Linked DNA regions of Homo sapiens: all the other regions are linked to region 1. The links come from fine-mapping of genetic effects on gene expression. A gene starts in region 1. Each other region holds a variant in brackets. All regions are shown on one strand. Distances are between the middles of the regions.

Region 1 (10,711 bases):
TTTTCACCTTTTATTATTGTTTGAAGAAAAAAATATAGAAAAAGTTTTCTTTGAAAAGACAAGTCCTAATATGGTTTTTAAAATAGCTAAGGGAACATAGATACCTGATGTTCATTAGCATTTTTTTCTGGCTTAAAAAAGTGCTGATTTTATAAATGGCTTCTTGAGTCAAGCCACAGATGTTTTACTCTGGTGGTGACCATACCGTTTCACTCTCTGCAAACCTCTCTCCTATAACACTCACCGCTATGAAAGGCTACGTTAAATCATAAAGGCTACTTTAGCACCTCCCACCCTCGCCCCAGGAAACTAGCCTTGAATACACAGACTCATGTTTAACAACAACTCCGGGCAGCATGCAGACATAGCAGTGCCCACAATGGCATTACACTGAAGGAGAAGCTCTTTTGAGAGAGGGTCCATTGTTGGCGCGTTCACACGCCTAACCAAGAGACTTTAGGAAGTGTTGTGTATGCAATCAAATGAGAGCTGGAGATAGGCAGGCAGGTGGAGAAACAACTATTTTTGAAGTACTTAAGAGAAGAACTGGGAGCTGCAACCACCAGGCAAATTAAGAAAAAAAGAAATCCTATGTAACCTTTACAATAAAAGGAAAGAGGTACCTTTTTGTGGAAGAGCTGGTGGCCATCAAGCCAAATCCTGTTCCGCAGTCTGCTTCTCACCCACGCAGGGCTCTGTCTGCCGTGGAGAGACCATCGCACGTGCTGGTCACAGTTCCCTCTGTGTTTCCATTCCATTCACCCCTACCCTCTGGCGCCCGCACTCCACCAGCCCACTATCCACAGTGAGTGAGAGTCGAGAGCAGAACAGCACGAGGGAGCAGCCACTGCAGGCTTTCCACAGAGCACAGCTCTGACTGTGGTTTCCGTGGGGAGACTGACAGAGAAGCCCCAAGTTACCAGGAACACCCTCTTCCAGCTCTCAGAGGTAATTCCTCTGAAGACCGAGCTCTTCCCTGATGTGTTGGGACCAGACTTACTGGTTACTATAGAGGCTGCAATTCCCTTCCCATCGAGCCCTGCTAGACACCACTGCAGTCTGAAAGCAAGGAAAGCTTTAAGAGAATGTCCTGTACCATTCCATCTTCTCACAACACAATACTCCTTACAGTAAGACTAAAATATTCCCCCCCGCCAACTTTTCCAATAATCACCACGTGGGGAGCAGAGATTATTTTAAAAGAGGTACATGGTAGGAAAATTTTCCTAGCAGAACAGCCTAATACAGCAATGCTTATCACTCTTTCTCTATCTAATAAATAAGCATTCATGCATTCTTTCTAGTTTTATAACACCTGGCTTACATTTTCTCTGCCATCTCTGATTACTTCTACAGATACCCTGAGGACTCATTATGATGTCAAAGCCAAAAACACTTCCATTGTAGAAACATGCATAGAAAAATCACTGTGTATGCTTGAACAATGCAGGTGTGAAAGAAACACAGAGAGAAGAGAGGGTGGCAAAACAGACAAACAGGGACCAAGTTAAAGAGAGAGGGGGCAGAAGAGAGAGAAAGGAAAGTGGAGAGAAAGAGAGAGAAGAGACAAGACACAAAGATATTACAAACAGAACCACATTGCATTGAAATAGCCCACTGATGGAAAAAATGGATAGCTGTTGCCTTTAAATAATCTAATATCAGAAAAAATCATGCAATAAAATACTATAAAAGTAGAATATTTGTATTATTTCATATGAGTTATGGTCACTATAGGCAATATTTTAAATATTGGGGTGGTATGTCAATTTAAAATATCTTTTTCATACCAGCAACCATGATATGTAGATATGACACTGCCCCCAACCACACACACACAAACACAAACCTACATCTATTTACTTCTTCAAGTTTGTGGTATCTTTTGTCTTCAGTTTTGTTTGGAAGAAATGCAGATCAATGTCAGGTGTTGTGTTGTGGTACAGAATACAGTATGATGAAACTTAGCTTGGTGAAAAATATGTTATTTGCAAGTTTTTGTTCAAGTTTATCCTCAGTTACTCCTTTCTAAAGAATACTACACAACTTTTCAAATAAAAAAGAAGATATTCAAAAAAAGAACTCTTAAAAACTTGAAATAGGAAAATGCATAACATCATTGCGCTCAAATTACGCTATGGAGTAATTAGATTATAAAAATTTACCAAAACTGTAGATCTCTCTTTCTGAGTCTACCATTCATTTGCCTCCTGAACAGAGTTCTGGTGAGACTTTGCATCAAGGTAGACTTCCTGGCAAAGGACAACATGCATTGGAAACACTGGTTATTGATTGAAAATTATAGCCCTGGTCTAAAAGGGACACCCAGCCAAACCAAACTGTAAGTGCAAAGCAGAGTGGTCATTATCAAAGAGCATCTGACTAGTCCCTCTAATTCCACAGAGGAGTTTTTTTTAATATAAAATATTTAAGGGTAAATAAACCTTTAAGTTGTTTGAAGTTAAAATGTATCCACTAAAATATATAACAAGTAAACAAAGTCTTTCAGATTGTATATTATGTATTTCTAAAATAATGTCTCTCCCTCAAATTAAATTGGCTTACAGGTAGAGTTGGAAATCTAGTTTATGCATGTGACTTTGAAAACATTATTTACTTGACAAAATTAATTTTTCACAGAGAAGTAATTGGCTTTTAAAAATTATAAATGTAAAGTATTTATAAAAGCAGCTGAACAAATAATCAGATTATTAACTCAATTTTTTAATTTTAAGTATAATTGTAACAAATAGAAAAACTTTACAAATCTTTGAAATTGCATAATCACTTATTTCTTTTCCCTAATCTATTAAACATTGACACAGAAAGCAGACAGAAAACATCAGACAGTGAAATAATTGGGTATATTCAAGAGTAAGGTACAAAATAGAAACATTTTCAAGAGAGTAAAAAATAAATAAATAAATTAGGTGAAAAACATAACAGGGACAGTGAAAACAGCATATTAAAGAAGTCTCATTCTCTGAAACTATCCACATAGTCCTAAGGTCATGCTTTGACAGCTTTTATAACCCCGAAGAAGACTAGGTACTCATATTCCTTTAATAATTTTTGTACACCACTCATATGTGGTCACAAATCATTGGGCCTTTACCTTGATCTCAGCTTCTAACACAAATTTGTGAAATTGGCATAAGTTCTGCTGTTGGATGCAAGTTTAACTCAAGAGAAGTTGAAATTTGTGTGTCATGCATACTTTCTACCTTACTGTGACACCAGATAGTCCTGGTGCATCTTTTCAAAGATGAATTTTATTAATAATTACATGTATTTGGATAAAATTTTCCAGTTGAAAAGTAATAATGTTTACAATTTTCCAACCCACAACTATACATATATACAAGTAATTTTTAACATATTGATATGTTTGAATATTTGGAAATAGAGTAAAATATGTGTATAATGGCAGATGGAAAGTCTTTACTAAATAAAAATGTTCAAGTATAGATATCTTTGCTGCCACCATCTTCAAAACATCCAAATGTGACCATGAAGGCTTCTCCTACTTCTACCTCAACTAGCACAATCATTAAGGTGATGAAAGTGAGCCATTTTCACATTGCCAATAAACTAGGAGGAAGTCAGTCACTGTTGAATGCAATCGCTATCAGCTGCGGACAGCTCCTGGTGCTGAAAGGGAAGGCAGAGAAGCCTGCTCACAATAGCTCACTCCACCAGCCTTTGAAAAATCACAGCAAAACTGAATGAGGTGGCAAGTGCTCAGCCTGAATAGCACTGTCTACAGAACAATGGCAGCCAACTCTAAATCCTACTATAATCACATTAATGAGATTAATCAGTGAATTAGCAGCAGTCAAATGTCAGGGAGGCAAGGAAGAATCCAACCAAGATTGGTAATTAACTTTTTGTGGGTGGGGGTGGGGAGGAGAGAAAAATCAACTGTGCTATCTCATAGGTTTTTTTAGATGTTGATAATTTTGATTCACGAATCTGAAGACTATATGTACAGATCAAAAGACAACAACATAATCCTTCATATTATAATATAGATCCAGATCTCATATTACTGATTCTTATAGTCCTCTGAGAAAGCTGATGTCACTTTAAATAATCTTCATAATCTATCAGAATTTTATTGTTTTAAATTCTTTAAATGCACAATTAATATTTAAAATAAACTTATTTCTCTGAAAATCAAGCTAAAATATAAAGAAATATGGCTGATTAAAAGCAGAAGGATTATATAACAACTGTTATTGTTTATGAAAAGTGTATGATAGTATGGTAAGAGTTTTCAAAGTGCAATCAAGTAAAGTACCATCACACACACACATCAGTAGTGGTCTATGTTAGTTAATAAAGAAAATTTATCACTCAAGTATAACTTTAAGGAGACTTTTAAGCAATTAACTTACTGCATTTGAGGTGATAGAATCATACATGTTCTTTTAGGTCAATCAGAAAAAACAAACTTCCTTTTTTTCTGGAATGTTTCTCTTAGTAGCATTTATAACTTACAATCAACACTTTGGATTCAAAGTTCTTGAGAGGTGAAAACTTATAGGAATGCAATGCTGTTTTTTTTTTTGAAAAGGAATATTTTATAAAACTCTTTTCTTTTAAAAATAATTACATTTTTATCTGTATGGGAGACATGACTTTATTATTTTTAAAGCTACATGACACTAAATGAAGATGAACAATTAGAAAGACCCTCATATGCCAGTAAGGGTGGTTTTGGGATGCTTTGGTCTATGACGTTAATTTTGTTTAGTAGAAAATATAAACATTTGAACAAAAAGGCTCTTATATAAAATAGTTTTACTCTAAGTAACTTAGAAATTATTTAGCTTATATAGCTTTGATGGTACAAGAAATTGTCATGGTTAATACTAAATTCAAAATCTGTTCTCTATATTTTATATAGCTAACTTTCATATAAATATTTACATATATATTTTTGCTTTATTCAGATCTATCTTAAAACTAAAGTGTAGAGTTTAATCTTTTAGTTTATTAATTTAGGTGTTACAAAAAGACATATTTCTGTTATAAATAACATTTTCTTTCATTATTATGAACTTCAAACATTTAAGTTAAATTTAAAAATCTTTATTTGAGTTTCTCCACTTAAACAATATAAATCAACTTTCTTCTTACCATCAGGTAAATTCATCCAAAATAGCTAACATTTTAATTGCCTTTGCATAAAATGATGTGCTTCATTTGTAATGTAAAGTAATCCAGTAAAGTCTCTGGGAAGTTTTTGTTTCAGTATCCTCTTATCCTCCAAACACCATACATGCACCCCGTTTTGTTTTTGTTTCTTTTTTTCTTAATAAACAACATCACAGTTAAGTCATGCAACCTAATACCCATTTTAGTTTAAAGACAGATTTTTTTGTGGATTACAAAGCCTCCAGTCCAGGAACATTTCAGCTACCAGCCATGCTGTAAAAATAACTTTAAAAAGGAGCAGACAATGGAATAGCAGCCTCAGCCCTTGAGCTACGGTAAAACACATCCTGCTCACTAAGTTCCCCGAAAAATTAACCTAACGAACATCACGTACCTCACAATGACCACAACCGCTCACAAGCGAAAGACAAGTTCAATTTTGGTAACTGTGCTGGCTCAAAATACACAGACAGGGAAGAAAACCCTGTTCCACCACAAGTTTGAAAGGATGATGAGACACATGCATGCCACCAAGACGCAGAAAAGGTGGCTTTTTGTCTTCAGTGAGTATGGATATCATAACCCATAGTCCAGGGAATGAAAAAATTAAAATGCACCCACCAACAATGAGCAAAAAACCCGGGGTGCTTCAACAAGACTGCAGGGAAAAGCTCTCTCACTGTTTAGTGTGCAGTAGCTTAGGGAAAAAAAAAATGTCGCCCGGGCAGGAATGACAAATGCAGCGCGATAGGCTCGCAGGCCTCAGGGATCTGTTTGACTTCCACACACCCCCATGCACACGCTCCCACTCATCCTCTCCTAGGCTTTTTTTTTTTTCCACATTTTTTTTTCACAAGCTCCAAATCCCCGGCATATGACCTTCTGTTAAATAGATAAAAAAAAAAATTGCTTATCAGTCATGCAAATGAGGCTGAATTCATTTTCCACAACAGATGGCCTCATAGATAATGATGATGGAAGAGAGAAAATTGAATGTCTCTCACAAGGTGGCCATGGCAACCGAGAGCAGAATAATATCAATAATAAACTCACTGCATAATAAGGTTGTCAGTCCTACAAATCAAAGTCTCCAGCTAAATCAGGTATACCACCCCAGCTAGTTACCAGGTAAATAGTACACACACACACACACACACACACACACACACACACTTCCACAGAGTGGCTTGAAATCTTTCATGGTCACTGTAAAATGTGTACGTGTGTGTGTCTGTTGGTGGCAAGAAGGGGTTGGGGGAGAGAATAGTTGGATAATGAAATGACAATGTGACTTTTTTCTTTTCCTTTCCTTTCATTATGTTTTCTGCAATAGACTCGGTTTCATGCAGGACCTTCTAACTAGCCATATTGAAATCGGGATGCGGTGCTGAAGGCTTTCTCTCCTCCCTCTGCCTCCGCGCTCTCGCTCTGATGTGCTGCATTGATGCAATAGCAGCTCGCCTCAGGCTTCCACCTTGGCTCCCAGGGGGACATCCTGCAAAATGAATCAGCAGCCATCCTGAGCAGGCTGATTAAAATGAAAATGGCAAGGCACATGTCTGGGCGGAACTGGAGCTCAGCTTTGCTGCTTGTCTGGCAAGCATGCTCAATATAGCTCTTGCTAATAATGGCTTACTGCCTTTCATTTTTTAAAAAGGTATCACCCTTTTCCCCCTTCACTGACTGGTGTTGTCTGTGTGTGTGTGTGTGGTGTGTGTGTGTGTGTGCACGTATGTGTGCGTGCATGTCGCGGGGGGAAACGAGAATGGATGGTTCTATTCTTCTAATTTTCTGCTGCTCACATGCAGACTGCCTGCCTGACAGCACCATTATTTTAACACTGAACTTACTTCAGCTTTTCTTTTGGGACAGGGTGGGGGGGCGGTTGATAAGTCTTGGGGCAGAAGGGCTAGTTTTAAAATCAAGCTGCCTAAAAGGCCCAGACAAGATTTTTACACTCCAGATTCAATAATTTCTAACCAAATCTGAAGCAACAGACCTCGAGAGAACTCCGATGCTCTGCTTCACAGGCTCACAGTTGGACATGCTGAAACACAGCCTATGAAGAAACCTATTTCTGTTTCGAGCATTTGCAACCAGCCTGTTACTGTATCCTAGATATTATGCAACACAGAGAATTAAAACAGAGAAAGCTACTAGCTAATAAAATAATCGAACACAATTGAAAAAATAAATCTTGGATATTTTGTTGTTTAAAATTCTCAGGCATAGCTTCAAGATTGCCCTCAAATAAGCTTTACTTTGCAGCACCTCTGCCGAGTATTCCAGGGTTTTTCAAGGCATTCTGGAAATTAGACCATTATCACCTCTCAAAAAAATGGTTGAAAAATTAGAACGAATAATTTTTCTAAACTCATTTTACTCTACTTCTCCTATACATCTTATTCTATGTTATAAACAGTCTTTAAATTTTGCTAAATTGTCAGTTTTGCTTTCCTTTGGTAACAGATGCTTGATTTTTGTATAAAACTATCTATCTACTTATTTTTGTCTTTGTAATTCCTGTTTCTGAGACGTGATTTTTTTTTCTTCTGAGCTCTAGCCCTGTTGCTGCAGTGTGAATCAGAAATCAATAGCGCTGCCCTAATGGAGACTCCACTCGGCACGCGGCAAGGCAGCTGCAGTCTCCTCTCTCTCTTTCTCTCTCTCTCTTGCACACACACACACACACACACACACGGAACTAATGACGTCTGTGCAGCTTTTTCAGCTGATTGGGCACCACATCGGATGTTCTGTGGAGCAAAGAATAGGAGTCATTTACAGTCGGCGGAAAAAAAATGGGAGCATATATCCTTCTGTGTGTAAGACACTGATCCTGAGCTCCCCAGGCAAGCAGCATGTGGGTAAGGACGGTTCTTCGTGTTGTGGTCACCACGGGGTAAAGAGCGCCTCCAAAATGATTATAGAACTGGAACTGCAGTACAGTGGGAGTATTTGTCCATTTTGTAAAGGACAAAGCATTCCTCTAAAAAAAAAGTGAGCACAATAAAATTCCCACGCAAATGCGAGTGTTTAGGTCAAATCGTGACCTCCTGGGTATTATTTAGGCGTTTACATATACATTATATTATTACTTCCAAGGAATTCCAAATGTACTTAAAAAAATAAAGTTCAAATTAAATGAATATATATGTATGTACACACACATATATACACACATATTCATGTAATCATTCCCTATGAGTTTATCATAGTTGTGTTAATAATAAATTCTTAGTTAAAATTCACCCCCACATACCTTACCTTACATTAAGAAGAAAGAAATCTGTAAATAATACTGACACAATATTTTAAATCACAGATTTATACATGTATATGTTTTTCTTACACATTTGTGCATGTCTATGAAAACAGAATGTATATTTGATATGGGGCACCTGCACACACACACGCAGGCACAATATTCTTTCAACAGCTTTGGTTACCTTAAGCTGTAGGTGTAACTCACTGCAATGACAGGCTGCTGTGTTGATAAGCATAGTATCTAATGTTTTACCCTTAAGGTAAGGCATCCCTGGACCCAGCAGCATTAAAGAACACGTCTTCCCTTACCACACTGTCACTGCATTTCATTCAACCTCATCGTGTTGACAACAACTGCCCCAGCCTGAATCGGGCTCCAGTGAAGCATTTGTATTCTTTCCACCCATTCTCTGCATGACTTTTAGAGCTGAGATACCAGCCCTCAAATGGCTCAAGAGAAGAGGAAAAATGAATGAATCATGAAGCCACAGAGCCACAGCAGAGCAACACTGCAGTCTGCATTTTGCAGTTACATTGTAGCTCACTTGATACAGTATGATTTCTTCAAAAATGATATCGAGTACTCTGCAGTAAGGTACCATAAAATCCTTTATGATGTAGAAGAACTGGGGAATACTCAAATGACCATTTAGATTAAAAATCTGTAGTTTGCGATTAAACCGTATAACCAAATGTTTTGTCTCTAAGTATCTGTCACCTGCCTCCTTAAATTATTTCTAATATATTTTGTACTTCATGTATTAGTTTATTCCACATGTTAAAGCCCTTGGTATTAGGAAATACATATGTCATTAATTTTGTTTATTTATGTATGTATTTATTTATTTGTAAGAGAAAAGAAATTGGAACATATTGCCACTTCTAATGGGTATGTCCTCCAATTTAGTACAAAGAAAAAAAGCCCATATAATTTTTTGTGTGGAAATACACACAAGTTATAACCTAGGATGTATTTCCAACTGTAGGATACATATGCTGATCACTTTAACAAACGATAGATTGATCTCTCATAGTATAGAAAGTTCAATCTCTTTCCTTTCTGTTCTCTGGACTCTGGTCTCATCATGAGACCAGAAACAAAAAGGAGCCGTGACGTTTCTTCAGGTGCCATGTTGCACACCAGGTGAGGAGCCGGGAACTAGACCTTCATGGAAAGCATGACGATGACTTCATGACCTTTTCTTCAGAATTATGTCTGCACCAGTGATGGAGAGCTGTGACATCTAAAGGGAGTCTGAGATTAATTTAGGTCTGGAGCAAACAGCATAGAATTGCTATAGTTGGGTAGTAAATTGGTAAAACCTGGAATCCAGATATTACTATATCAGAGTGTACACTATGCAAAATCAGGCACTAACATAGCCCTCCGCCACTGTATTGGGGAACAACTTTCCAAGTTAGCTATATATCAGAGAGGGGGTGGTTTATTAATTTATCAATGATAAGGATGGGGAACCCATTTTCATTACAGGGAATTAGCTTCAACTAATCAAAACATCTATAGAGTGACTCAATAGCAAATAGATAAAAGAAATAAGGTGTTGGTGGTTAATTTGCTAAATAGAATAATGAGAAAGAAATTTAGGAGACATATCATGAAGAAGAGCTGAGGTATCAAGAATAGTTGTGGTCAGATAGAATTTGGTTGTGTAATCTCGGTGAAATGACTGGACCACAAGGGGTAGACCATGAACCTCAGAGCTCATGCGTTATTTTTGCAGCTATCCCAGGCTGACCATTCTATTCAGTATAAACCCATATTAGGGGAGTCTGGAGCAGGTAGAGTTGAAAACATCTGTATTCAGATCACTTGGCCTGATTTTATAGAACTGGTTATTTATTGGCAAAATATATAGATATAAATATGAAATATAATTCTGAGATCTAAAAGAGCATTGAGAATTTAAGATGTAGGTAAGGGGTGCCCAACCCCAGTCCATGTCTCTTAGGGACTGGGCCGCACCACAGGAGGTGAATGGTGGGGAAGTGAGCATTATTGCCTGAGCTCCGACAAGTCAGTGGCGACATTAGACTCTCATGAGAGTGTGATCCCTATAGTGAACTGTGTGTGTGAGGGATCTAGGTTGTGTGCTCCTTATGAAAATCTAATGCCTGATGATCTGAGGTGAAACACCTCCCCACCCCGACACGTTCTGTGGAAAAATTGTCTTCCATGAATGAAACCAGTCCCTGATGCCAAAAAGGTTGGGTACTGCTGGTTTAGATTATTATAACCAGCAAACTAAGATAATCTATAGAAGGT
Region 2 (10,711 bases), 520 kb before region 1:
CTGCCAGAATGATGACCTCGGCCAGGTGTGTACCTGACCATCTGAGTGTCCCTGGTGGGTGACTGCTGCCCTGCCGAGGTCCCTGGGGCACCTGGATCAGTCCTGGCATAGCTGGGCACAGGGCCCAGATGCCCATATTTACAAAGGCCATTCTGGACACTTGCTTCCCTGGCCGGCTGTGTCTGGTTACTGGCAACATTACACTGCCAACGCCAAAGAGAAGGAGATTCCTCTCTATTTGTGACCACTTGACCTCACACAATTGGGTGTACACAGAAGGAGAGCAGGAGTTTGGCAAACACAATCACCCTAGAAAATTCAGGATTTGAGATTGCTGTTCTCATTGGCCACACAGCACCACAATGGATCTTTACTCAAAACTAATGGAAAATGTATCCAGGCCTCCTAGGACTCCCAGTGGGTAGATGCTGTTTTCAAGCTTTGCAGACAGAAGGGCAGAAGGGGTACAATCAACCAGAGGCCGAGGCCTGAGAGCACCCCAAAAACCCTGCTGACATCAGCAGAACAGAGGTGGAGGCTCCTCTCTACCAAGACGTTAGAAAGATGAGAGTAAGAGAAAGTGATGGATCAGTGGGATTGGGCCTTAGATGCGGCTTTTAGTGAAACGAAAAAAAAGTTATACCCTCAAGATAAAAATACCCAATGCAAAAAATCCCAATTCATAAAGCAACTAAATTATGAACGAACGTATCATTTCAGAAGCATTCCCCACAAGCTTCTGTTAAACTGCAAGCATCCAAATGCCTTTAGAACACCTCCATGTGAAGGAGGCCCTCAGAACACTGGACGTGGTGAAGCTTCGACCCTCTACAGCTGTCACAGGCAAATTTCTCAAGCACATTCCTAGGAATCCCATCTCGCAGAGGCCTTTCAAAAACCTTGGACTGGGATGCTTAGTTTGAAGAATTCATGATAAATGTCAAACTAACTGGCCTATCAGGCTTTGTTATCTAATTGATCTGCCAGATCAGGTCAACTGTTCTGACAGAAGTCAGTGTCATTTTAAATCCAAATAAAAGTCTTGATACGGGTCCCATGACAACCTTTCATCTCTAATTTTGTTCTGGGAGTGATGGATGGGTGGATATTACTTCCATAGCTCTGCTCTGTCCTGGGGGACCACCCTCAGGCCCAAGTGGTCACCAACAGCCCTTTGTGGGAGCCTGGGAACGTCTCAGTCCTGGGGCTGCCCACTGCGGCTCTGTGCAGCATGCCATTCCTTTGTAAGGGGGAGGAGGGAGACAGGGAAACGGTGCCAGGAAGAACCGGCAGGTCACAGAGCATTCCCGGCCCATGAGATTCTGTAGGACGAGGGTATGTGGAAGAGGAGGGCCTGCAAACTGATTCTGTAGAGCTGTCCACAGCCACATTCCTGGGACATCCTGCGAGCCCCCAGGCACGTGCGCCTCGGCGTGAAGCCCCCTCAGGGAGAGGAGAGCTCTGGGTTGGGTGGGAATTCTCCTTATCCCTGCAGCAGGGCAGTGACTGGCCCAGGAAGCAGTCCCTGGGGTTGCTGGGGCCTCTGAGCTGAGCCTCACTTTGTGGATGGTTAGGCTGGAACTAGGGTTTTTTTGTTGTTGTTGTTTGTTTGTTTTGAGATGGAGTTTGCTCTTGTTGCCCAGGCTGGAGTGCAATGGCGTGACCTTGGCTCACTGCAACCTCCACCTCTCGGATTCAAACGATTCTCCTGTCTCAGCCTCCTGAGTAGCTGGGATTATACGTGCCTGCCACTACACCCGGCTAATTTTTGGTATTTTTAGTAGAGATGGGGTTTCACCATGTTGGCCAGGCTGGTCTTGAACTCCTGACCTCAGGTGATCTGCCCACCTCAGCCTCCCAAACTGCTGGGATTACAGGCGTGAGCCACCGCGCCCAGCCACAACTAGGGTTTTATAATACATTCCACCAGTTGGCCTGCAAGCTGTCAGGAGAAACTGCCTTTATAAAAAACTGGCCTGAGCAGGGAGGGCCCAGCCAAAAAGCAGCATCTCAGAGCCAGAAAATCCACCCACTGGACACCAAAGCAAAGAAGCAAACAAATCCTACTCAAATTAGCATAGCGTGGTCCTGGAAGATTTTGATTTACTTCAGGATCCTGGTAGCTCTTGAGAGACCAGTGTCCCATGGTGAACCCAGCCAGCGCTGGTCACTCTCACTAATGGCTTGGTGGAATTTCCATGCCTCCTGGAATTTCCTTTTCCTTACAGCTGAATAGAAACGTGAGTTCCCACAGTTTGGAGCTCTCAGGAATATTAAGCGAAATAAGTAGGTGAAGTTCCTGACAAAGCGCTTCATGTTTTCAGGGCTTGATGGAGGTTAGAGCTCCTTTCCCTAGCTTGCTTTCTGCTGTGATAGTAAAAGGAAAGAAAAAGCATTATCTTATTTCCTTCTCTCCTAAACACTGCCCCTGCCCCCACTACCCGCCAAAAAGCCACTGATGGTACAACTTCAGCCAAGGTGCCAAGGTGCTAAGAGGCATACAGTGAACTTCTGCAAAAGGGTTCTGAAGGGAGACTCACTAACAGCCACGCCGGCTGCTCAGGCAGAGCTGAGTACTAATGCGTGATGAGATCACTCCACGGATAAAGAAAATAAGGTGATCCTTGTTGGGCAGAGACATGAGAGCAGGCTCATCCCTAAACTTAAAAAAGAAAGAAAGAAAAATACTTTAGAGCCAGAAGGGAACCTCAAGGACATTTAGAATAGCTGCTTCCCTTTCAGACAAATGCTCAAGAGAAAGCGCTAAAATCCAGTGCCAGGGTCCTTCTTGGCCGAGTCAGTGCCTCACAGTGGATTCCGGTGGCTTCTCTGTCCCACACAGTGTCTGGGCCTCACATGGAGGGAAGCTGCTGCGCACTCTTGTTACACTGAAGGTATAAAAATGACCCCAGGAAAGGCTTTACACTCAGGATATGAAAGAAAAGAAGGCCGGGCATGGTGGCTCACGCCTATAATCCCAGCACTTTGGGAGGCTGAGGTGGGCAGATCGCTTGAGCTCAGGAGTTCAAGAGCAACACAGGGGGCAACATAGTCAGACCTCATCTATAGTAAAATATTTAAGGCCAGGCATAGTGGCTTACACCTGTAATCCCAGCACTTTGGGAGGCCGAGGGAGGTGGATTGCTTGAGCTCAGGAGTTTGAGAGCAGCCTGGGCAACATGGCGAAGCCCCATCTCTACCAAAAATACAAAAATTAGCTGAGTGTGATAGTGCACATCTGTAGTCCCAGCTACACAGGAGGCTGAGGTGGGAGGATCGCTTGACCCTGGGAGGCGGAGGTTGCAGTAAGCCAAGATGGTGCTACTGCTCTCCAGCCTGGGTGACAGAGCGAGACCCAGTCCAAAAAAAGAGAGGGATTGTCTTTTCCACATCTACAGCAAGGGCAACAGGAACACAGAGCTTCAGATGCAAAGAATGGTACCACAGCATCAGGAATTGGATGCTGTGCCTCTGTCCCCTGAAGAGCATCAGGAATTGGATGCTGTGCCTCTGTCCCCTGAAGAGCCGCAGGAATTGGATGCTGTGCCTCTGTCCCCTGATGAGCAGCAGGAAAGGTCCCTGGACCCTTCCTGGATTAGCTACACAGACATGGAAATGATGCCTGGGCACACAACTGTGCTCTGGGGGTAAGAAAGAACTATCTCAGTTTGGTGCAAACAGTGTCAGGAATCGACAGCCCCAGGCATCAGCACACACTTGGACTTAGGAAGACCCACTTCCACCACCTGTTCTCCCAGTGACCTGCAGCTCCTCTTTTTTACCCATGGACGTGCGTGCATTAGGATCTGCAGCAAGGGGAACTGTTTGTCCTAAAACTTAGCACAACACGAACTGTGTGTCTAGAAACTTGGGTGAAATGCAGCGACCTGGCTGAAGGCTGCCCAGCAGCAGCAGCTGGGCCCAGCGGGCGGACGGTGGCCCTGGAATGCCCGTGTCCCGGCTGCTTTCTGGTGGGATGACACCCAGTTGTTGGTTCCTCTAGTTTAGAGTCACAGACCAACTGCTTATCTTTATCCCTCCGAGTTAGCACCTGTTTTTGTGAATTAACTCCTTGTGTGCAGCAGTAATAGGAATGTCTAGTGCCCTCAATGCCGACTCAGGCCCACCGATGAAGAGATGGCCACCTCAGGGATCTGCCCACCGCCGCCCAGGTGGACCAGCCCAGGTGTGAATGGCCCCTCCTCTAGGATTGGCAGATCTGTTCTCTCCGTATTTTCTTTCCTTTTCTGTTTTGAACTGGCCTACCTAACCTAACCGCCACTTCCTTCATTAATGGGGAACAAAGGCACGTGGACTCGGATCAATTGTCTAAGGATTTCCACTTTAATCCAGGGTTATTCGGGGGTGAAATGCCCTCTAAGTATTTTGAAAAGCGCCCGGCATGCAGATGGGGCTTAGGGAATGTTTTCTTTCTGGCAAGGAGCACTGCTCCGTAATAACTAGAAAGCGAAAGTTGGCTATCCTGGTGTCTCAAAAGCGGGGTCCTTACACTGGCTGCTTGGGACTGCATCCACAGGGAGAGGTTGTGAGGGTGGGTCAGGGTATTCTGGAAGGCAGAAACTGACAGGAGCAGCCTGGGAGACAGGAGCAGCCTGGGGGACAGGATGCCTCCAGGAGCCCCAGACCTTGAGGACCAATGTCAAGAAGCTGATGACCTTTCTGGTGAACAATGGGCCACATGTTGAGGAATAGTTTGTACTGGCTGCTGGCAGAGGGAGTCCTGCAGGTACACACACGTGGGACGTTCAGGCGTCTCTCATGCTGTCCTCAGGACCACCAATAACAGTCAGATGAGAGGAGACCCCCGTGGCTGTGGCCAGGGGCTTCATGCCTGCATGCTTGGGAGCTGCTCAGGTGTGGCTCACTCTTGGTGGATTTGGGGAGGAGGTGCCCTTTGGTAAAGGTACAGCAGGAGGGTGCCAGGTTCTGCCCAGGTTCAGCTTTGTAGGGTGGATCTGTGCATCATAGGTCTGGGAGCCTTCAGCCCAGGGCATCCGTGCTTTGTGGTGCTTGAAGAGGTTTGCAGGCTCCATTTAGAAATACAAAATTAGGGGTGCATCTTGCAAGTGAAAGCTGAGAAGGGGAGGCTGGGCTTCTGCTGTGAAGGGGACCAGTCTGCTCAATGGCTACAGGTTACAGCTGATCTCATTATTCCCAGGAGCCATGTGCTATAAAGTTACTGCACACAGGCTGAGAGCAGAATCACTGCTTTTGGAAACAAAGGGCCAAGCTCCTGCCACCCTCTGGTCCCATTTTTGTCAATCGATCAATAAAAAACCCTGTTAATATGGTTTGGCTGTGTCCCCACCCAAATCTCATCTTGAATTATAGTTCCCATAACCTCCACGTGTCGTGGGAGGGACCTGGTGGGAGGTAATTGAATCATGGGGGTGGTTACCTCCATGCTGTTCCTGATACTGAGTTCTCATGAGATCTGGAGGTTTTATTAGGGCTTTTCCCACTTTGCTCTGCACTTCTCTCTCCTGCCGCCATGTGAAGAAGGACACATTTGCTTCCCTTTGCACCATGATTGTAGGTTTCCTGAGACCTCCCCAGCCATGTGGAGCTGTGAGTTGATTAATCCTCTTTCCTTTATAAATTACCCAGTCTCGGGTATTTCTTCATAGCAGTGTGAGAATGCACGAATACACCTGTTTTATGTGTGCTCCCATTTAAAGACAACCTATTTAATAGATACTGTGGATTCCTTAACATAGAAACTCCCAGCCAACAGTCACAACCATGACTCCTGTCTGAAGGGAGCTTGGCTAGCGTGTGTTTTCTCTGTGAGGCACATCACAGCCCCCTGCCCTTAGGAACACCAGACACTTCAGCTGCTCTGCGAGTGCACAGGACTAACTACAAAAGCACTGAGATCATTGCCTGCGTCTACAAATTAATTTCGGCAGGGAGGTGACCTCGCAAATAGAGTCCCCAGATCATGAGGGTGGACTGTGGATGTTTCTAAGGGCTTAAGTGGCTCTCCTCTCTCCTGCTCCTCCAGAGGCCCCCAGTTTTCCTCTGCAGAACTCTCTACACACCTGTGCTGGTTGGTGACAAGAGAGACCCTCAGAACAAAACAGATTTGCAGGTGGAATCAAGAAAATCAGGCACCAGACATGCAGAGAGTGAGGGCGACAGGGGAGGGGGTGCCATCCTTGTTATCTGTGGCCTGGGGTGGCCCCAAAGCTGCTCCTGGGTGGAGAAACCCTGGATGAGGGCCTGAGGGACACAGGCAGAAATGTGGGCACACTGGGGTTCCAGGGAGTAAATCGTCCAGTGCTGGAGAGACCCTCAGGACTTGGGCTCATGATTCCGGTGAGCAGTGAAATCGGTGAAGGTGGGAGACGGTTTTGAGAAAGACTGCTTTTTCTCAAGTTGCTTCGCTTTATAGATGAGAGGGCCAGAATTATCTCTGCCCCTGCTTTCTAAGAAAAGTGAGCTGTAACTGTCAAAGGACACACAGCTGGCATGGCCGTGCCCGCTGGGCCTTCCTGACCATGGGTGCCACGAGGGCTGGAGGGGTGCTCACCGTTGCTGGCCCGCTGTTTGATGGTCAGCATCTGCTCTCCAGAAAGCTTTGCCTTCTTCATCGCTGACGTGGCTCTCGGGCATCCTGACAAGCTGTGGACAAGACACAGGACGGCCATTAGTCAACTGTCTAATGTCCCAGCCCTGCAGGGAAGTGGTGGTAAGCAAGGCGTAGAATAGCATTATTAGGTTGGTTGCCAGCAAAAGGCT[G/T]TCTGAAAATGAGAAAAAGCAAAAAGACCAATGCATACAGTATGACAGTTATGCACACATGGGGTGCATGTGTGTGCACTCATGCATGTGGTGAGCACTGATCATGGGTGCTCGGCTGGGGCTGCCTCTTGGCGGGGGGTCTTGGGAGCTGGGGCTCTGAGAGCAGAGGAAATCTGCCCTTCATTGTATAACTTTCAGAGCTTTTTGGAACTTTTGTAGAGTGATAATATTGCTTAAAAATCTTTATTATGGAAAGCATCAAGCTCATAGAAAGGTTGGGTTTAAAAGTTAATTTCAAATATACAAAAGTAGAGACAGCAGAATAATGAACTCACCCCAAATTCAGCTGTTATCTCTCAAGGCTAGTCACCTGTGCCCCTCCTGCTTCCCCAGTCTCAAAGGTGAAAACATAACTGCAATCTCCTTATCTCACTTACAATTTTTAGCCAGTTTTCTAGTATCAGCAGCTATTCAGTCTGTTTTCAAACTTTCCAGGTGTCTCTTCACTTTTCTCAGCCACTGGTTTGTCGACGTCAGGATGCGTCTCAGCTCTTCACAGTGTATGTGGCAGATGTGGCTGGCAGCCTCCGGGGCAGGAAGGCACCTCTGCCTCCTTTTCTGTCCTGTTGGGTGTTTGCTGAAGATGGCGTGTCCTGTGTGCGGAGCGCCTCTTCCATGCAGTCCCGTGCCTCGGCTTCCTCACAACTCCTCAGTCTCCGAGGGGCCTTCCCTCCCTTCCAGGGGCTCCTGGACGTGCTGGTCAACTGGAGTCCTCACTGTGCTAAAGGCCAGGGGCCATCTGGCACTTAACTATGGGTGAGGTGAAAAACTTCTATATATAACGCTTTTTTTTTTTTTTTTTGAGAGGGTCTTGCTCTGTCACCCAGGCTGGAGTGCAGTGGCCCGATGTCGGCTCACTGCAGCCTCTGCCTCCTGGGTTCCAGTGATTCTCCCGCCTCAGCCTCCCGATTACAGAATTATAGCCTCTGGGATTACAGGTGTGTGCCACCACACCTGGCTAATTTTTGTATTTTTAGTAGAGACAGGGTTTCACCATATTGGCCAGGCTGGTCTTCAACTCCTGACCTCAGGTGATCTGCCCGCCTTGGCCTCCCAAAGTGCTAGGATTACAGGCATGAGCCACCGCACCCCGCCTATAATGTTTTATATATGTATATGACATATGTGTTTATTCTCTCTATACATAATATTGTATTTCACCTGTATATGAAGTGTTAGATGGACCGTGTCCGTAAGTGGTGTGATGATGTGTTAGTGATATATCTAGAAACACTCTTTACTAGTGCAGGCAGATTACATCATTATTAGAAATATCTCTAATATCTGCATTAATATAATTAAGCTTTCTAAATATTATTTTTGTAATACATTTTCTTTTAAAATTTAAGAAAACAGGAAAATTCATAGCAGAAGAACTTGATCGTAATACATTTTCAACTGGGGATATTAGTGGTTGTTTTTGGGGAAATCCTATCTTTGTATAAAAATATTTCCAGTATTCTTCATCCACACCACAGGTCTAAGTTGTTATTTTTTTGATGTGATGTTTGCATCTCATAATTATAATAGAATATTCATAAAATTCTAAATAATCATTGCTGTTGCCTGACTGTGTCCCCTGAAAACTCGTGCACTGAAATCCTGACCCCCACCGGGATGGTGTTAGGAGAAGGGGCGTATGGGAAGTGAGGAGGCCTCGTGATGGGATCCGTGCCCTTATAACAGGGACCCAGACAGCTCCTTAACCCCTTCTCCCATGTGAGGACAGAGTGAGAAGGCGTCGTCCACCAACCAGAGAGCAGCAGTTGCCAGATGCCGAATCTGCTGGTGCCTCGGTCTCGGACTTCCAGTCTCCAGAACTTGGAGGAATAAATTTCTGGTTTCTATGCTGCCCAAGGTATGGTATTTGTTTTTGCAGCCCTGGAACGTCTAAGACAATCACCAGTATTTGTTGCTCATACCACAACTCTGTGGCTGTGAACTGCTGTGTTTGCTGATGATGTTCCTAGGTTCAGTGGGAGAAGGAGCAGCGGGGACTTTAACCCCAGCGTCATCAGCTCCAGCATCATCAGCTCTGGCGTCATCAGCTCTGGCGTCATCAGCTCCAGCATCATCAGCTCCCGCGTCCTATCCCATCCCAGGGCAAGCCGCACGGGAAGCCCCAGGAGCAGAGAGGCCTCTGGGAACTGGGTGGCCTGACAGGGTGGGCACGGTGGGCGCCCTGGCTTCTCCTGCTTGCCCTGACTGCATCCCCAGGAATCCGGACAGTCCCTGAGGGGGTCCTGGCTCGTGGTTCCCTTTGCTGTTTTTTTGTTCATTTATTTGTTACTAGACATTGGCACTGCTGCTTCTGATGGATCCTCTCACCCTGCCTGCTGCTGTTTACACCGGAAATCCCTGTGCTACTCAAGCTGTCTTTAGTGTGGGGCGTGAACGAACCCCTCGCGTTCCGGAGGGAACAGGCTCCTCTTCAGTCCTCCCTGATGGGGCCTGGGCAACAACCTGGCAGTCGTCCCCACTCCGGGGCACCCTCCTGGGTCTTCTCCTGCCTCCCCATCAGATCCCAGCAGGACGCCCTGCAAATCCGGCTGGGGTGGGGGCTGACACTTCTGCTTCCCTAGCTTATCCGTAAATCTGCTTCTGAAGGCGAGCTGGATATTTTCATTTGTAAAATAAGAAGTTCTCAAAAGATCTGTTAAGGCTCTCCTAAAATAGGATGCTTGGATGTTAACGCCACTTTTCCCCTTCCTGCCACTGGACACACTGTGGCTGTCACACACATCTTCCTGCAGGTGTGTCTGCGCTTTGGCCCCCGCATCCAGGTAGACTCTGCAGTCAGGTGACTACATCTGGCAAGTCCTTTGTGAGACCAGGAGGCCCACTGGACCTCACACCGCACCCCCTGATGCTCTAACGCACATAAGACGTGGAACTGGCTAGGAAAGACTTAGGCAGTCCTGTTTGCTCACTTATGAAATGAGAATAAAATATTGAATTGACTGTGTTTGTGAAGTTTAATGAAAAGAATGTGTATTCTTGAGGGCAAGGATTAAAATGCACTTTTTTGTTCACTGCTCTGTATCCCCATGATGGGAGAGTGCTGGAGATGGAATAGGTGCCCAGTGACGACTTCTGAAAGCATAAAATGTCTGAATGCACTTTGTGATGGCTCAGTGAGTGGAGGCCCAGGGTGAGTGTGAGTGCACCCAGGCTCTGGAAGGTGCAGACTGAGCCCTCAAAGAGGCCTGCGGCAGGATTTTGCAGGACTTCCAAGTTAAGAGAAGACTCTTAGCCGGGCGCGGTGGTTCATGCCTGTAATCCTAGCACTTTGTGAGGCCGAGGCGGACAGATCATGAGGTCAGGAGTTCCAGACCAGCCTGGCCAACATGGTGAAACCCTGTCTCTACTAAAAATACAAAAATTAGCTGGGCGTGGTGGCAGGTGCCTATAATCCCAGCTACTTGGGAGGCTGAGGCAGGAGAATCTCTTGAACCCGGGAGGCAGAGGTTGCAGTGAGCCGAGATCGCACTGCTGCACTCCAGCCTGGGTGACAGAGCAGGACTCCGTCTCAAAAAAAAAAAAAAAAAAAAAGACTCTTGAATGCAGCTGCCGCCCTGGGTTAAGATGAGAGGAGGGCTGGGGTGAGGGCCTCCTGCAGAGGTCCTAAGACTGTGACTGTAGGACAAGGGTGACGCCTGGTCGGTCCACGGTGCGTGTGGCCCAGCCCGGCTCAGTATGATCCTCACAAATGCAGGGAGCAGCTCCCATCTTTCCCCCGCTGAACCTCTCTGGCCTTCCGCCGTCTGAACCTCCGCAGCCCTTTCGACTTTCCCTGTGTTTGCGAATGGCATTGAGGGGCCAGGAGCTGCAGGTGGGGGGGAGAGAGGGAGGGCCACAAAGGCACGCCTCCTCCTCCTTGCCGTCCTCC
Region 3 (10,711 bases), 150 kb before region 1:
GGTCATCCTCTCGCTGATCCGTTCATACCTTCACACACTGTTTCACACAGCCAGCCAGTGATTCCACTGTTTGCCCACTTCTGCTAATGCCACTGTTGTTATCAAAGAAACTAGGGTGCTTGAAGATGGGGATTGCACCTGTTCATTTTTGTATTACCAGGGGCCAGAGGAGAGAGAATCCATTAAATGAATGAATTGAATAACAATAATGATAATAGAGTTCACTTCACCCTCCTTCCAAGCCCCCCAAGGAACTCATGGCTCCTTGAGAGTACAGAAGATGTTTATTACTTGGTGAATTCTTCATTTGTTTAGCATAGTCCTTAGCACATAATATGTACTCTCAAATAATTACTAATCAAATGGAAAAACATAAGCTCTTAAAAAAAAAAAAAACAACAACCTGTATCAGGAAAGAAGACGAGAGAGCAAGTGATCATTTGAATCAGTGGTGCTACCTTAGGAGTGAGTGCAAGTGGCAGAGAGACAACTCGATGTGGGTGTGTGGAAACTGTGCCTGAAGGTGTATGCGAACCTGTGTGTGTACCTGTGTGTGCACCTGTATCTGTACCTGTGTGGGCCCGTGTGTGTACCTGTGTGTGCGCCTATGTGTGTACCTGTGTGTGTGCTTATGTACCTGTGTGTAGCTGTGTGTGCACCTGTATCTGTACCTGTGTATGCCTGTGTGTGCACCTGTGTGTTTTTGTATGTACCTGTATGTGCACCTGTATCTGTACCTGTGTGCCTGCATGTGTGCCTGTGTGTGTGCTTGTGCATGTACCTGTACCTGTATTTGTACCTGTGTGTGCCTGTGTGTGCACCTGTATCCATACCTGTGTGTACCTGTGTGTGCACCTATATCTGTACCTGTGTATGCCTGTGTGTGCACCTGTATCCGTACCTGTGTGTGTACCTCTGTGCTTGTGTATGTACCTGTGTGTGCACCTGTATCTGTACCTGCATGTGCCTGTGTGTGCACCTGTAACCGTACCTGTGTGTGTACCTGTGTGTGCTTGTGTATGTACCTGTGTGTGCACCTGTATCTGTACCTGCATGTGCCTGTGTGTGCACCTGTAACCGTACCTGTGTGTGTGCTTGTGTATGTACCTGTGTACCTGTGTGTGAACATGTATCTGTACCTGTGTGCCTGTGTACCTGTGTCTGTGCCTGAGTATGTACCTGTGTGTGCACATGTATCTGTACCTATGATCTATGTGTGCCGTGTACCTGTGTTTGTGCCTGTGTGTGTACCTGTGTATATCTGTGTGTGCACATGTATCTGTACCTGTGTGTACCCGTGTGCGTGCACCTGTGTGTGTACCTATGTGTCTGTGAAGTGAGACTGAAAACATGAGAGTCTACCTGGCTCTCTGTTGTCTCTGACACACAGAAACTTCATGAATGAAATCATGTTACTGATTGCTAGCTGAACTCTCCTCAATTTTCAGAGAGTCCTTGGGAAGAAAATCAGAATTCTAGCAGTAAGCCCCGCTCTTAAAATATATAGAAATTACCGTCTGTCAGAGGCTGTGGATGCAGAGTGTGATTTAAATGTGCTATGAGTTTAACTTAAAGCACAGCCACACATTTCAACTAGAAAATCCTAATGGTAGGGGCATGAGTGTACTTAAGGCCCTTCATCTGTGACAGAGTTGACCACGTGGAAGCGCTTTGTCTTCCCGGATGCAGTGCCAAGGACTGGGGGTGCTCCCCTGCTCTCTAAACCTGCAGCCTTTTCCTTCACACAGCAACCACAGGAGGGTGCATGCCGAGAAGTGAGATTCATCTGCATAAATACATCCTCCAACTAACTGCTTCCAAGTGAGAGAAAAAGGACTTTCCACGTTCCAGCACTTCCATGCTCATTATTTCATTTGATCCTCAGAACAACCCTGAGAATAGGCAACCGAGATATTATTAGCTCTATTTTCAGAGAGAAACTGAGGTTCAGAAAGGTAGCTTGCCTGAGGTCACAGAGCTGGGATGGGGACCCAGGTTTCCAGGCTGGACATTGACAAGTGTCCACCCTGGCAGTCACCTCCCAACTCCCATATGTAACAAGCTTTCAGAGCAAAAATGAATGGCATGCCCCACTCTGACTACACTGTGTCTTGGAACCATGGCCACGGACAGCACGCCCCACTCTGACCGCACTGTGTCTTGGAACTGTGGCCACGGACAGCACGCCCCACTCTGACCGCACTGTGTCTTGGAACTGTGGCCATGGAGAGGTGACCTCCTCTCTGCAGGATCTGATTTCAGTGGCTTAGGAAGGGCCTGTCCTCCAGATTGTTAGAACAGTACCCATGCCAATCGCTGAAACCCTTCCATTGGAAATCCAGTTACTTGAACACTTTTTTAAAAGAATTTACCTTTATAAGTGCAAATGATTCTGGGCTAGCTGATATTTTGAGTCACTATTGATTAAAAAGATATTAATTTTTCATGGAACAAGGAAGATGTTTGCAATAGTATGGCCAGCATCTATCCTCATTCTCTGTCCCTCTCTCACACCCATGTACCCCCCACACTCTTTCTCTCTCATTTTCAGTCTGTATTTCACAAGGAAGAAAGCCAGACAGTAGCAATTGCCTGGATTTGGATGGAGGATTTAGGGAGGGCTGGAGGCTTAGAAGCAGGCATTGCGTCGGTTTTTCAAAGCACAGCATGCGCTTTGCAGCTAACCAGAAAGGCATGCTCTCTTTTTCATTTGGCCACTGTTTGTTGTGGATGTCTCCCTTTGGGTTTTGGGGAAGGAGCAGTGGTTTGGGAATTGCTGGCTTCCTACCAAACACCACCAAAGAGCAGTGCAGTCCCAGCGCGGCCCACAATGGCAGGGACTGAGATGGATAAACATCACAGTAGATAAAGACTCGCACAGCCTGGGCCTCCAGGCAGGACAGAGTTGCAGGGGAGAGAAGGAGGGAGGTCATCGCTTCTCCTCTAAGTAAGGAAGGCTGCAACAGGGATGCCCACAGTGCTCAGGGTTACGCAGAGGTGAGCGGACTCTGCCACAGAGGTGGGGAGGTTTTCCGAGGAGCAGCAGCTGAGCTTTGAGAAGGTCATGTCATCAGGCTATGGATGGTGAGTCACAGAGGGAGATCTCCTGGACAGAAAACAGTAACACAAAAAGCATGGAGCAGTTGGAGGGAAGGGTGTGTTTGGATGGTAAGTCCTGGGGGAGCCTGAATTGTATCCCTCAGGACCCAGCGAACCTCCTGGCCTCCCCTAGAGTAGTGAAGAGCCAGGTTGCTGTTTTAGAACAGAGAGGAGGGGAAGAGACAGAGAGGAACGAACCTGGGGGAAGTAGACCACGAGAGAGCTGCTGGGGTGAAGCCTGGTCACAGAGAGGCTGCTCACCTCTGTGCAGGGAGAATAAGTTCCCACGGGAGGGGAGGAGAGAAAGGGTGGGGCCAGGCGGTAGGAAGAGAGAAGGAGCCTGGAACCAAGCCATCCTGTTTCCTAAAGCTTGCTTTGTTTCCATGACTCTAGAAGCAGTATAAAAGAAACATCCTTCCAGTGCACAAAGCTTGCAAGAGAGTAATATTATGAATGTTTGAAATCATGCTGTACTTGATGGCCCTGTAAGGTAATGATGAGGTTCTCAGTGTGATGAGGTAGAGATCCATATTTTAGCACATATTCTTCATAGTTGCAGCTCTCTGTAAAAGTTATCAGCATATGACAATTCAGAATCCCACATGTAGTTTCTTGCAAACTATATACTAGAAAAAATACTTTGGAGATATAACTAAAAGAAGGAAGGAAGGGAGGGAGGGAAGGAGGGAGAGGAAGGAAGGAAGGAGAGGAGGGAAGAAAAAAGGAAGGAAGGAGAGAGACAAAGGAAGAAAAAAGGAAGGAAGGAAGGAGAGGAGGGAAGGAAAAAGGAAGGAAGGAAGGAGAGAGACAAAGGAAGAAAAAAGGAAGGAAGGAAGGAGAGAGAGGAAGGAAGAAAAAAGGAAGGAAGGAAGAAAGGGAGGGAGGGAAGAAGAGAAAGAAAGAGAGAGAGAAAGGGGGAGGGAGAAAGAGAAAGAGAGAAAGAAAGACAGAAAGAGAGAAAAAGAAAAAGAAAGAAAGAAAAAAGGGGAGAGAGAAACAGAGAGAGGGAGGGAGGGAAAGAAAAGAAGGGAAGGAGGTAGATGGCTTGAATAATGTAGGTCATGCTGAGGCTGTTCACAATTTTAAACGTCTAAAAAACACAGCTGATATCTACCTAGAAGGAATCACTAATAAATCATACTGTTTCAATATTATCTAAATATATTCTTATTAATGACATACAAAGTAATAAATACATTACAGTGTTAATGCATGTGTGTGTTCAAGAGAAACAAGTAGAAAGTAAACACAAGACAGAGTTCGTCCCTGTAGATTCCACAGTGAAAATGTGCAGCGCCCATAAAGGTTGGGACAGAACGGACGAAGGCCCTCAGTGCTTCCAATCCACTGACGTTTATTTTCAGGCAAAGGCCCATTTTAAATACTTTCTATCAATGTTAAAATGATGAGTTTAATGTGTCAAAGTAGCATGCTTTTAAAAATTGGGGATTTTTTTCATGGGATGATTTCATCAAGTAAAAATCTCCAGGCAAAAATATCCTACACTCCAATTTGCCCAACCTCCTCTGTCCAAACAAAGGAATAACACTCATCTGAGCAAGACCTCCTCTTCCCGCCTAAGCCTCCCCGCACCGCACGCCCACCAATGGGCTGGCGGCCTCTCCAGCAGAGCCGGCAGATTTCCCCAGCTGTGGGAGGAAAGCTCTGTTCTCTTCCTGTGATGATATAAGCCTCTCCTCA[T/C]CCGTCAGCTTCAGTTGTAGGAGAGACTCCTGCCTAAATCGGTGGTTGGGGTTGGCTTGAGGTTTCCAGCTACCCAGAAAGGGACCCGCCAAGAGAGGCCGCAGCTCGGCACTTTAGCTGGCAACTGTGCAAAGCTCCACCCCATGAGTAGTTGCATTGCTTCGGGTAAGCTTCGCCACCTCTCTGGCCTTTACTTTTGTCATCTCTGAAATGCAAATAGTAATTGCGTCTACTTTAGAAGGCTTGTCAGAGGATCCACTGAGACAGCACAGCTCCTGCATTTAGAAAATGCCCTCATGCTGCAAACCTTCCAGTCACCAGCCAGCAACTCTTCCATATCCATCCAATAACTCTCTGTTCTGCACCTAATAAGCATTCCACTCTTATATACAAGCCTCCTTATAAAAGGCCTAGACTTAAAAATAATAATAATAGCAAACACATTGAAGGTAAATGGGAATGAGGGCACTTTCAACACACAAAGCTTATATAACATATTTGTGCTATTTAATTAAAATGTAACTAGTCATTCAGTACTGTGTGGTTTTTGTTACTTCCTTGTATTTTAATAGCTCTGTTCAAATATGAGTAACTCACCACAAATTGTGTGGCGTGCAAACTAATATATTCACCTGATTGGCCTCCACACGTGAGGGGGACGCAGCCGGGCCTCCTCGAGTCCCGCGTTCCTTCTGTGAGGGGGACGCAGCCAGGCCTTCCGGGCCTTCCCGAGTCCCGCGTTCCTTCTGTGAGGCGGACGCAGCCGGGCCTCCTCGAGTCCCGCGTTCCTTCCGTGAGGGGGACGCAGCCAGGCCTTCCGGGCCTTCCCGAGTCCCGCGTTCCTTCTGTGAGGCGGACGCAGCCGGGCCTCCCAGACGCCCGCGTTCCTTACGTGAGGGGGACGCAGCCGGGCCTTCCGGGCCTTCCCGAGTCCCGCGTTCCTTACGTGAGGCGGACGCAGCCGGGCCTCCCAGACGCCCGCGTTCCTTACGTGAGGGGGACGCAGCCGGGCCTTCCGGGCCTTCCGGGCCTTCCCGAGTCCCGCGTTCCTTCTGTGAGGGGGACGCAGCCGGGCCTCCCAGACGCCCGCGTTCCTTACGTGAGGGGGACGCAGCCGGGCCTTCCGGGCCTTCCCAAGTCCCGCGTTCCTTCTGTGAGGCGGACGCAGCCGGGCCTCCCAGACGTCCGCGTTCCTTCCTTGAGGGGGACGCAGCCAGGCCTTCCGGGCCTTCCCGAGTCCCGCGTTCCTTCCGTGAGGCGGACGCAGCCGGGCCTCCCAGACGCCCGCGTTCCTTCCGTGAGGGGGACGCAGCCAGGCCTTCCGGGCCTTCCGGAGTCCCGCGTTCCTTCCGTGAGGGGGACGCAGCCGGGCCTCCCAGACGCCCGCGTTCCTTACGTGAGGGGGACGCAGCCAGGCCTTCCGGGCCTTCCCGAGTCCCGCGTTCCTTACGTGAGGGGGACGCAGCCAGGCCTTCCGGGCCTTCCCGAGTCCCGCGTTCCTTTCGTGAGGGGGACGTAGCCGGGCCTCCCCGAGTTCCGCGGTCATTATGTGAGGGGGACGCAGCCGGGCCTTCCCGAGTCCTGCGGTCCTTACTGGTTAACTGTAGTCCCGCACTGTTAATGTTTTTCGTTTTTTGAAGCCAAGATAGCGTGCTCACCGCAAAAGAAATATGGACCTCGATGAACAGATAATAGGGAGAATCTCATGCACCCATCCTGGAATTACGTTTTTAGCTTTGCCCCCATCACTACCATTGGAGGGAAGCAGCTTCTGCGAGAGGCATTTGTAAAGTCTCCATGTCTCCCCAAGAAGTCACGTTCTGCAGACCCGTCAACCATCCCATGTCCCGCCACTCCCTCTAGTAAATAAGGATCCTTGGGTTTTTCTGGATGCCTACACTTACTAACTCTTGACCCAATTTTTGCATAAGCATCGCAGAATCAAAAATCTATAATTAACAGATTGTTATAAAATTCTACAACGAATAAACTCTTAAATTCCAATTCGAAAATATTGTAAACTTTGCATTATAAATTAACATGAGTGTCTGTAGCAAGGTTAAGATCAATTTATAATGTAACCTAATCTTCACCTTGGTCTTTATTGGCACTGATTTAAAAAGATCTGTGTGCAATATCATCTTCTGAAGATAAGTTCCTTTCATTTATTTCTATTTGCTCTGATCCTCCTTTTGGAAAACAAAATAAAGAATTTTTTTCTAAAAAAGGTATGATCGAAACTTGGCCTTAATGAACTTAAACAGCAATTCATCCTCACACAATCCAGTCTTTATGGATTGCAGGCCTAGGGTAAGCAGGTTGCAGGCACAGTGAGTGACAGACAAGCAAATGTCAGAGGAGATGCTCTTATATTTGGTCGTGGGCTCCCTCTTCCACCGAGGCCTTTCCTAAATCTGCCTTTGATGAGCTTCCCCCAGCCATCAGCTCTGTCCGTTCCCTCTGGAGCTGCACAGAAAGTGCTTCATGGAAATGTCATCTGCCAGGACAGCAATTACTGGCACTCCAGCAATCACGGGCACAATGCAGAGTGGGTCGAATTCAGGTGAGAGCGAGAACCCACAATCAAGCCCGGGGAAGGAGAACAAAGCCATTTTCTTTCATTCGCCGTCAACACAACCATCAGGCCTTAATTACACGGCGCGTGCGGGGCTGGCTGCTGAAAGGCATGTTATTACCCAGCTTAGTTCCAAATCAGCTCAGTATTGATGAGCGGCAGAGGGAGGAAGCCAGCCTCGCCCCCGTGGAAAGGAACAGGCACCAAACAAGCAGATGAGTGGCAGAAGGGGGCACACTCCAGGGAATTAAAAAATAATTTTAGAAGGGAGGGAGGGACCTGGTACCTAAACGCTGGCTAAAAATACGTTTCCAGAGGCCCATTGCATTCATGGCTGAATTCAACACAGGTATACCTACTTCAGCCTGGGCTGTTTAGTTGGCCAATATATCTTACTGGATAAGTTCTTGAAGCTGTTATTCTCTGCTCACAGCATTTCCCAAAGGCTCCCACAAGTCTCAATACACCTATGAGTACATTCTTTGTTCTTATCCCCAATTCTTTTTAAGCAATTTAAGAACATTCTGAAAAAAAGTTCTCAGATTATCCCTCTCTCTCCATATATATAATAAACATGTATGCATTTATCATTTATATTCTCTTATATTAAATATATATGCATATTTGCCTCTGTCTACCTTAAAATAACAAATGTTCAGTGCAAAATATTTTTTAGAGATTGGCATAATAACACTTAATGGCAAGCTCTAACATCTTTGAATAAAGCCTCTACAGTAAAAATAAATGGTTCATTTACTACTAAAAATTACACACACAAATGCATGCACACACACATACACTTCCTTCCCATGGCAAAACACCTATATTTGTGTATGAACCTAACACAAAAAGGCATATTACTCAGTATTACCGAAAGTTAATGGTAATATTGACAAACCCAAAACAACATGAATTCGGAACTGTTTTGTTTAGAATTCTAAAAACGATTCTGCTATTTGGTGGGGTGCTATGCACCTGGATGTGGAATTAAGAGGTGCATCTCCTTTCAAGCTGGGGGAACACACACTGCCAATCCCCCAAGCTGAGCTTTGATGGATGCACGAACTTACCAGCAGGCACACGCTCACGCCGATAGGAGCCGTGCACAAGCGTGTGCAGTGCTTAATGCCAAATTATGTCATTTAAGGGACCTTTACATTTCCTAATCTATTTAAAATGGCCTAGAAAATAAGTCCTGATCTGTGTGCCTGGGCTAGGTCTATTAAGAGTCAGACAGACGGCATAATGAAAGCCAGGGTGCAGCCCTAATAGGAAATCCAATGTTCTGTGTATTCCCTTCCTCTCCCTTTTTTGCCCAGGCTTTAGACTTCCTGGGGATCTGTCTCGGGCAGATGCTCATGTTTTCCAAGCTTATTGCTTATGGGAAGTGGTAGGAGTTTAAGAAAATCAGAGAGAAGAAGCTGTCATCTTGCTGACAAGCTGGCCAAATGCAGGTGGGTCAGAGTTTTGAGTGATGTGAGTTTTGAAATCCACTTCCAAGGCAAAATTAAAATACAAAAGCTTTGTCCTGCCACAGTCTGATTTCCCTAGGATAGATGGTTGCTGAAGACCTGGGAAGCTTCTCCTCTCACACATGCTTCAAGTGAGCGTGTTTACTCTGCGAGACTACAGGGAGAGGAAATTAATTTGAGCTGCTGCCGCCTTCCTCCCCAGCGTAGCCAAGAACATAGCCTCCTAACCAGCCTCTCCAATCCATTGCTTCCCCTCCAGTGCATTCTCCACACAGCAGCAGGACCATCGTTCTAAAAATGAAATTGCATCATACTATATAAGAGCTTCTGATTGCGTTTGGGGCTTCCAAAACCTGAACTCCTGGCCATGCCGCCACCGCAGCGTAAGAGGCGGCTCCTCCTCATCCCTCCTGACTCCTGTGTTGCTCACAATGTTCTCCTGGAGCAGTTCCCAAAATGGGGTTCGTGAGCCTGTGGGGGTGCCCTCCACCCTTTCATGGCCTTTCGGGGGTCTTCCCTCATGCAACTACATCATCTGTGGGGTTGGATTATCTTCAAATGCTTCAGCCAAAACAACTTATGCAATATGTTAAGTGCAGAGGCAGATGAGAATTCAGCTGCTCTATTAAGACACGCATGAAAGACATTTGCTAAATGTGAAACAATGACGCTCTTTCAATAAATGTCTTTTTTATGGAAAATATTATTTTTCATAAATATATAATCACTTATATTAACAGGTACTGGGTTTTAAAAATATTTTTAATAACTAAAAAGCAAATAATGTTTTAAAATATCTTAGTTTTAATTGTTAATGTGGTAGCTATAACTTTCATGAACAAAATCTCTGCGAGGGCTTCAGACTATTAAGCCTATGAAGAGCCCTTGTAACTGAACCTGGTGAGAAGCAGCGTTCTCAGGACCTCACGGTGAGAAGCGCATTCTCAGGACCGCACGGGGAGAAGCTCGTTCTCAGGACCGCACGGGGAGAAGCAGGGTTCTCAGGACGGCACGGGGAGAAGCAGCGTTCTCAGGACCGCACGGGGAGAAGCTCGTTCTCAGGACCGCACGGGGAGAAGGAGCGTTCTCAGGACGCACGGGGAGAAGCGCCTTCTCGGGACCACACAGTTCCTTCTTTGTGTGCACACACCGAGCTCTCCCTTCCTCAGGGCCACTGCACAGCTGGTTTTTCTGAGAGGAAGCCCAGGTAACACCTCAGTGTTTCTCCTCTCTCCCATAGGGCTCATCCTTCGCTTTCTGTATTGGCCCTGCTGTTTTCCCATGTTTAGGGCCCTGATTTTTAATATTTTCTTAATTATTTATTTACTTTTCCTCTTATTGGAAGAAGGACGGGCACAGTGGCTCATGCCTGTAGTCCCAGCACTCTGGGAGGATGAGGCAGGCAGATCACTTGAGCTCAGGGATTTGAGACCAGCCAGGGTAACATGGTGAAACCCTGTCTCTACAAAAAATACAGAAATTAGCCAGGCAGTGGCACACGCCTGTAGTCCCAGCTACTCGGGAGGCTGAGGCAGGAGGATCACTTGAGCCTGGGAGGTCGAGGTTGCAGGGAGCCGAGATCACACCAGATGGTGTAATGAGAAGGAAACCAAACTGTCTGTATGCCTATTTTTTTTTTCCCAGCCTTTAGACTTCCTGGGGATCTGTCTCAGGCAGATGTTAATATTTCTGAGCTCCAGCCTGCTGGGCCACAGAGCAAGACCTGTTAAAAAAAAAAAAAAAAAAAAAAGAAGAAGAAAGCTCACAGAAGAAAGTACTTGTGTCCTGGATTCCTTCAGTATCACCACAGTGTCTACTGCATGGGGCACTTTTTAAACATCTCATAAATAAGTGAATGGATGAA

Which allele goes with the higher level. Alleles are on the strand shown, and positions count from the first base shown. SD is a standard deviation of normalised expression in the study named.
As copies of T replace G in region 2, the expression in aorta of the gene that starts at base 5,863 in region 1 goes up (moderate effect, 0.55 SD a copy in GTEx).
With allele C in place of T in region 3, the expression in testis of the gene that starts at base 5,863 in region 1 is lower (large effect, 0.79 SD a copy in GTEx).

What was found.
Region 2: its variant is fine-mapped to the expression of MYT1L in aorta (GTEx, PIP above 0.99). The same link has a PIP of 0.9 or more in coronary artery and tibial artery.
Region 3: its variant is fine-mapped to the expression of MYT1L in testis (GTEx, PIP above 0.99).

The regions. Positions count from the first base shown.
Region 1 is chr2:2,325,413-2,336,123 of GRCh38, forward strand. It overlaps MYT1L (myelin transcription factor 1 like), which reads right to left and starts at 5,863. Exons shown (of 25, transcript NM_001303052.2): 1 at 5,555-5,863. MYT1L-AS1 (MYT1L antisense RNA 1) reads left to right here. Exons shown (of 2, transcript NR_024468.1): 2 at 1-1,696.
Region 2 is chr2:1,802,523-1,813,233 of GRCh38, forward strand. It overlaps MYT1L (myelin transcription factor 1 like), which reads right to left. Exons shown (of 25, transcript NM_001303052.2): 22 at 6,554-6,645. Among named protein-coding and RNA genes, the nearest start is that of PXDN, 63 kb to the left of the region's middle. RefSeq lists enhancers at 1-224, 1,451-2,083. The variant G/T (reference allele first, on the strand shown) is at 6,763.
Region 3 is chr2:2,179,981-2,190,691 of GRCh38, forward strand. All of the region lies in intron 2 of MYT1L (myelin transcription factor 1 like), which reads right to left. Among named protein-coding and RNA genes, the nearest start is that of MYT1L-AS1, 130 kb to the right of the region's middle. The variant T/C (reference allele first, on the strand shown) is at 4,801.